2 separate regions of the Homo sapiens genome follow, and region 2 is linked to region 1. The links come from fine-mapping of genetic effects on gene expression. A gene starts in region 1. The other region holds a variant in brackets. All regions are shown on one strand. Distances are from middle to middle.

Region 1 (2,904 bases):
GGAGCAGAGTGGAAGAATTGCTCCCCCTCCTACAAACGTGATTAACCTGTTTTAGCTTATTTTTCCTAAAGTCTCCAGGGCAGTGCCAGCTGGGGGAAGGGGACAAGCCACAGACAGGAGGAAGAGAACAGCGGAGGGAAGGGAAGGGAAGCAGGTGACCACCAGGAGGGTGTGACAGGCAAGCTGGATGCTGAGCCAGAGCTGAGGTTCCTCTGTTCTCACAAACCAGGTGAAGAATGAGGTCACGGGCTAGAGTTTGGGGGCTCTTATCTCTTTTTTATCGTGTCACTTTTTGTCTGTCCTTCAAGAGGACAGAGAAGAAAACACAGAAGACACAAATAATTCAAGGCCACGTGCATGGGAGCAGGGCAGCCTGCTAAGTTCTGCTTTCATTCCTTCCCTAAACATTCATTCCCTGAAGTTGATAGGCGCCTTCGGGATTAGAGCTTCAACTGTGGTCATCGAAGCCCACCAGGACACGACCACAGACCACGGATTGGCTCCACGGTTCTCTTCCTCCCCCAACCTTCTCCTCAGTGCCACTATTGGGAGCTCTTTCTGTGTCTCCAGGGGCTCTCAGATAACCAGGGTCCCAGGTGAACTCCCGACAAACACAGGTGCACCATGTCGTTTGCATGGGTGTCGCTGGCCCCCGCTGCTGGGGCAGGCTGGCCTGCTGCTTGGTGCAACACCCATCAGTCACTTCTGCCAAGGCCCCTACTCTGTCCTGACCCCGGTGGGGGCCATGGGGTTGGGGGAATGGGACTGGGATAGGAGATGAACATGACAGCTTTTAGGAAGAAGATATCTTGGTTTCCTCTGGAAAAATCCTTCCATTTCTTTAAACCCACCACAAGCCACTTTGAGGGACTGCCTGAGCGCCCCATGTTCCCCTACCGACCTCCCCTCTTTGCCCTCCCACTGACTCCCAGACCCCCGGTGGGCGCAGGTCGGTACTCACGCTGCTGGGGTGGAGGACGGGCAGAGGCAGCAGCAGGAGCGGGACGCAGACGACCAGCAGCAGCTTCCGGACTCGGAGCAGGCCCTGCAGCAGGCCCATCGCGCCTCTGTCCTCTCCAGCTCGTCCTTGGACCCCGCTCTGCCGGCGAAAGGCTTCCTGCCTGGGCACTGCTCTCTATCCAGAAAGACTTCTTAAACCTTTCTTGGCTTCCGAGAGTCCTCCTTCGTCTTGGGGGCAGAACGGGAGGGCAGTTATACCCTCGCTGTTTCTACAAGAGGCTGGGCTCCTGGCCTCCTGCTTTAGGTGGGATTGATGAGCATCGTTTTGTGACCAGCAAAAAGGAACTGGGAAAGGATGATAAACGGGGGCATAGTGGGCCTCCTCTCGGCTTGATTAGTAATAGAGTAACTTCATTCTAGGTGTCAGCAGAAACCCCCTTAATCCTTTAAGCCACACCTTTGCTGCTGCTGCTCGGCCTTGAAGAAATCATTTAAAAGCTTAAAAACATTAAAAACGCTCAGAGCACATTGTGCTCTCCATCAGTTTTCCTCCCTCGGATGACCTATTTTGGGGAGTACCTGTTTCATCTCCCACCTGGGCTCGCTGTTGGTAAGACTCTAGTAGCCCCTTTCCTTAAAACAAGCACCTGAGCTTGTCAGAGTTGCATGCGGACTTCAGGTGGGGCTGCTGGTCGCTCCCAGGACGTGGTACCTTAACTCTGTTCACATGTCTTTCCCTCAAATTGGTTCCCTACTTATAATTTGCCTTGAGCCTGGGCCTGCAAAGCAGAAAAGAAAAGTCCCCAAGACATTCCTTTTTATCAAAGGACAAAACTTGCTGGAGGCCCACCTTTAACTTTCATCCACCAATGGGAAGCCGGGACAGAGACAGTAGCTCCGCCCACTTCTCAAAGCCAATCAGCAAATTGAAAAGAATGAGTCAATTTCTCTCCCCGCGGCCGCTCTTGATTGGTCACAGCGGGGGCCTGCTGATTCCGCAGAACCTAGGCAGCCTGCTAAGCTTATTTTTCAGTTTCTCAAACTTCCTAGGGCTGGAGTGATGACCATCATCGTAAACATAATCTCACGTACCCAAGCACAGCTTTATTGTTTCGGATCATAGGACACAGAGCTTTCGCTGGGAGGGCCACCTGCTGATCTAGACCTTGGGAAGGGAATGTGCCTGGTGGCAGGGAGAAAATGCAACATTACTTCTGGAGAATTTGCCTCAGAGTGTACAAAGTTAAGCCTTTCAGACCTCCCTGCTGGCAAAGATCGTTTGCCTCAGCACCGAGGGGGGAATATAAAGGGTCTAGGCCAGCAGAGGGTATGAGCTCGTGAGAAAGACCCCAGATCTTTTGGGAAGTATAGCTGCCTCCCTGGCAAAGTCTAGATGCCAGTCTCATGCCCAGATGTCAGTGGTCTCTCTGGCTAAAGTAGGTGCTCAAATGCTTCTCTCTGGGGCTCTCCAAAAAGGAAACCGAAGACCTTCTTTGGCTGGTACGAAAGGAGGAGGTGGGAGGGCAGGGAAGAAGTTGACAAGTTCAGGGACAAGGTCTTAGCTGCAGTTGAACTCTGGAATTTCTCCTGTTTACAGATTGGAAGAAGTTGTTAGCTTCTTTTCTCAGAACGGACATGTGGATTTGGGGCAAGGAAGAAAAGCAAAAGCAAAAGCCCAAACATTCTGTAAGTAGTGGTTCTTGGCAACATTACCTTACCTTGATCTGGGAGATGCTGAGCAGAGTCAAAGGGTTATAAAACCCATGTTGTCTTGAATTCACAGAACACAGGAATGGCGTTCGAAGATCTGCAACTATACTACTTGGAAATGATCCCCAGGCTAAAGTGACCAGGGAAGTGACCCAAAAAACAAATTCTTCTTGACTTTTAAGGCAGGTGCAACTGTGGACAGCTGAGGTCCCCTTTGAAATTATCTTGCCATCG
Region 2 (2,904 bases), 24 kb before region 1:
GGATTACCGGTGCCCATCACCACTCCCAGCTAATTTTTGTATTTTTAGTACAGGCGGGGTTTCACCATGTTGGCCAGGCTGGTCTTGAACTCCTGGCCTCAAGTGGTCCTCCTGCTGTGGCCTCCCAAAGTGCTGGGAGTACAGGCATGAGCCACCACGCCCAGCCAATGTGTCCTTTTTAATAATAACATTTTGTCAATGGAATCCTCACTGAAAGGAACTCTAAGGTGGATCTGTAGCTGTTGAAAATCTGGTTCTGAATCTTGGGTTTCCATGAAGAAGTGCTGAGGGATTTTCAAGTGATTCCAAAGCACAGAAAAACCCCAAGGCCATACCTCGTTGTGCATCAGAGTGGTGAGGTCTGCGTTGGACCTGCTGGAACCAAGCAGAGGACACAGGAGCCACGTCAGTGAGGCCGACTCTTGGGAGGGGAGGTCCCCCTGCATCAGGCGTTTGGTGTAAGGGACTTAAACTCTCTGGATTCCAGTTTTCTAGTCTCCAGAGAAGACTAATCTCTCCCTTGTCTTCCTTGCCTTCTGAGATGCTGTAAGGATTAGTGGGGCCAGGGGCCTGCTTCCTTCTGAGGGCAGGGGCAGCACTTTCCTTTGATATTAACAATCGTCCTAACAGCAGATGTGGAGTGGATATTAGATACAGAGTGCACATATATGGGCTTTAACCCCCAGACATTGTTAATCCTCATCACAGATCTATGGTCCTGGCATTCATACCTCCATTTACACCAGTACTTAGCACGGGGATGCTAAGTGGCAGAGGAGGGTAGGAGTCCAGGAGTCTGTCTCTCTGGAAAGCCTATGCCCCCTGACCATGTTCTCACTGGCTGACTCTCATGTTCTCACTGGCTGACTCTCATGTTCTCACTGACTGACTCTGGGAAGACCACTATCTAGAAAGGGGAACTTGTGATATGCGTATCGGAGGTGACAGGAGCAGGGAGGGCCTGGATTGTACTCAGGGAAAGTCAAGGGAGAGGGAGAGGGTGGCGGAGGGGGAGGACTTCTGATCAGCAAGTACACCTCAGGGGGTGAGTCTCTCCCACCCCTGCTGGTCCCCAACCTTTGCCTTGAGGACAGAAGAAGATGAGAACTTAGCCATCAGTGTAACTGACACACTGAGTGATCAGTGAATGTTTCCAGTTTGTCTTAGTTGCGAGGACAGTGGGAGCCACCAGCTCAGCCACTGTGAAGACAGAGAGCGTATTGGGCACACACATGCGGGATGTGGGTCCTGCGGCCATGGTCCCTCTTCAGGCTCTGTCAGGGAAGGATAAGAAGCTGACAGGC[G/C]TGCAGAGGGAAGTGTTCTTTGGAGTGAGTTCTTAGCCTGGGAGGAGAATGTGCTGTGATGTTTCCCTTCCCTTCTTCCCAAACTGGGTGAGGAGGGTAGGCGAGGATCCTCAGGTAGCATGGGAGGTGGTGGCCGCAAGAGTGCTGTCTGCACACCCAGCAAATGACCCAGTTCCCACCAGCACAAAAGATGCTTAGAGTTCTAGGGACAACTCAGGCTTTTCTTTTGGAGTTTGGGGATACATTTTTGTGTGGAAAAGAGCAAAGGCAAGAAGCCAGTAGGGTGATGCCAGAGAGGCCACAGGGAGGAGAAAAGGCCACAGTGAGGATGGCCTTTTCCTGGGTCACCTGGGACAGGCCTGCCCAGAGGCAGAGGCAGCCCCAATACAGGGGTTGTGGGGGAGTTAACCACCAGAGCACAGGCCCTGGAGGGTGGCGTGAGTGTTAATCCCAGAGCAAGGCCCTGCCATCAGGCCTGAGGCCCTGCAGAGGGCGCCATAATGGGATGCTCCAAAGACCCTGAAGGCAGTTGCCCCACAGATGAAAGAGCCAGGGACTGAAATCTCAGAGAGGGCACCAACCCCAGACCTCAATAGCCCCCATCCAGACCCTTCTCACCCATTTATCTTTCCTGTACCCTAGAGCTGCTGTCCTAAGCCCAGAAAAGTCAGAAGCAGCAGAGTGAGGGTGCGGTTAGGGGAGGAGGAGAAGAGGGAGGTGGAGGAAGACAGAAAGAAGCTCAACTCCCTCCCCCGACTTACTTTCACCTTCTTTCTTCTGCAGGCCTAGGGTGAGGGGTGGGTGGGTATGGGAGAAGCTTTGGCTGAGAAGTTGAAGTTTTGATTTGAATTTGGACTAGTCTCCCAAATGTCTGAACATGAGATTGTTATAATACCTGAAAGGAACCAGGAGAGCTACGGGATTTGCCTGGGATATCATCAAGGGTGATGTCATCAAGAAATCCAATATGCTATGATTGAAGATAGTGGTGGAGAAAAATAAAGCGATTTCCTGATGGCACCCTTCCACGTCTGTCCCACTGTGAACGCTGATTTCACCCAATGTGCGTTCTCCTTTTTTACAACAAGGGCAAATGACAGAGCTGAGCTGTATTACAAATCCAGCTTTTAAATGTGGACTATTCATTGTGGCATGCCTGTGGGCCACATTTTGAAATAGAATCTCCAAATGGAATCAGCTGTTAATAGAGCTTCCTCCAGGAATGTCTGAGGCTGCTTCTCCTTTTCCAGCTCTGCTTCCCATCATCACAAGGCCCTCTCACCTCCTGTCCCCTCATCCCCTACCTGTCACCTAAGTTTTCTTTGCCATATCTAACAAGACCAAATCTACCAAGACCTTATCTAATATCTAGAAAATATTTCATGATTCTCCAAGAATCTGCAGTGGCATCGAGATGTGAACGGTTTTCCGTTAACAAATTAAACATACTATTTTCCTAAAAGGGACATGAATTTAGAAGAGATTCTGCATGGTGGCTGTGTGGACAGTTCATATATCCACTGAGATTCAGTGTGGCCTTTTTATTTCTTCCTCATCACTGCAACACTGTGGTTAAGGGAGTGACTCTCCAGGTCCTGAC

What was found. PIP is the estimated chance that this variant, and not a neighbour inherited with it, causes the effect.
Region 2: its variant is the best candidate, but not a certain one, in a credible set for the expression of SLC13A4 in tibial artery (GTEx, PIP 0.83).

What each region holds. Positions count from the first base shown.
Region 1 is chr7:135,726,437-135,729,340 of GRCh38, forward strand. It overlaps SLC13A4 (solute carrier family 13 member 4), which reads right to left and starts at 1,750. Exons shown (of 16, transcript NM_001318192.2): 1 at 962-1,750. The coding sequence starts at 1,060.
Region 2 is chr7:135,702,510-135,705,413 of GRCh38, forward strand. It overlaps SLC13A4 (solute carrier family 13 member 4), which reads right to left. Exons shown (of 16, transcript NM_001318192.2): 6 at 336-375. LOC105375521 (a long non-coding RNA gene) reads left to right here. Exons shown (of 5, transcript XR_928021.3): 4 at 1-2,904. Among named protein-coding and RNA genes, the nearest start is that of SLC13A4, 24 kb to the right of the region's middle. RefSeq lists an enhancer at 1,592-1,886. The variant G/C (reference allele first, on the strand shown) is at 1,305.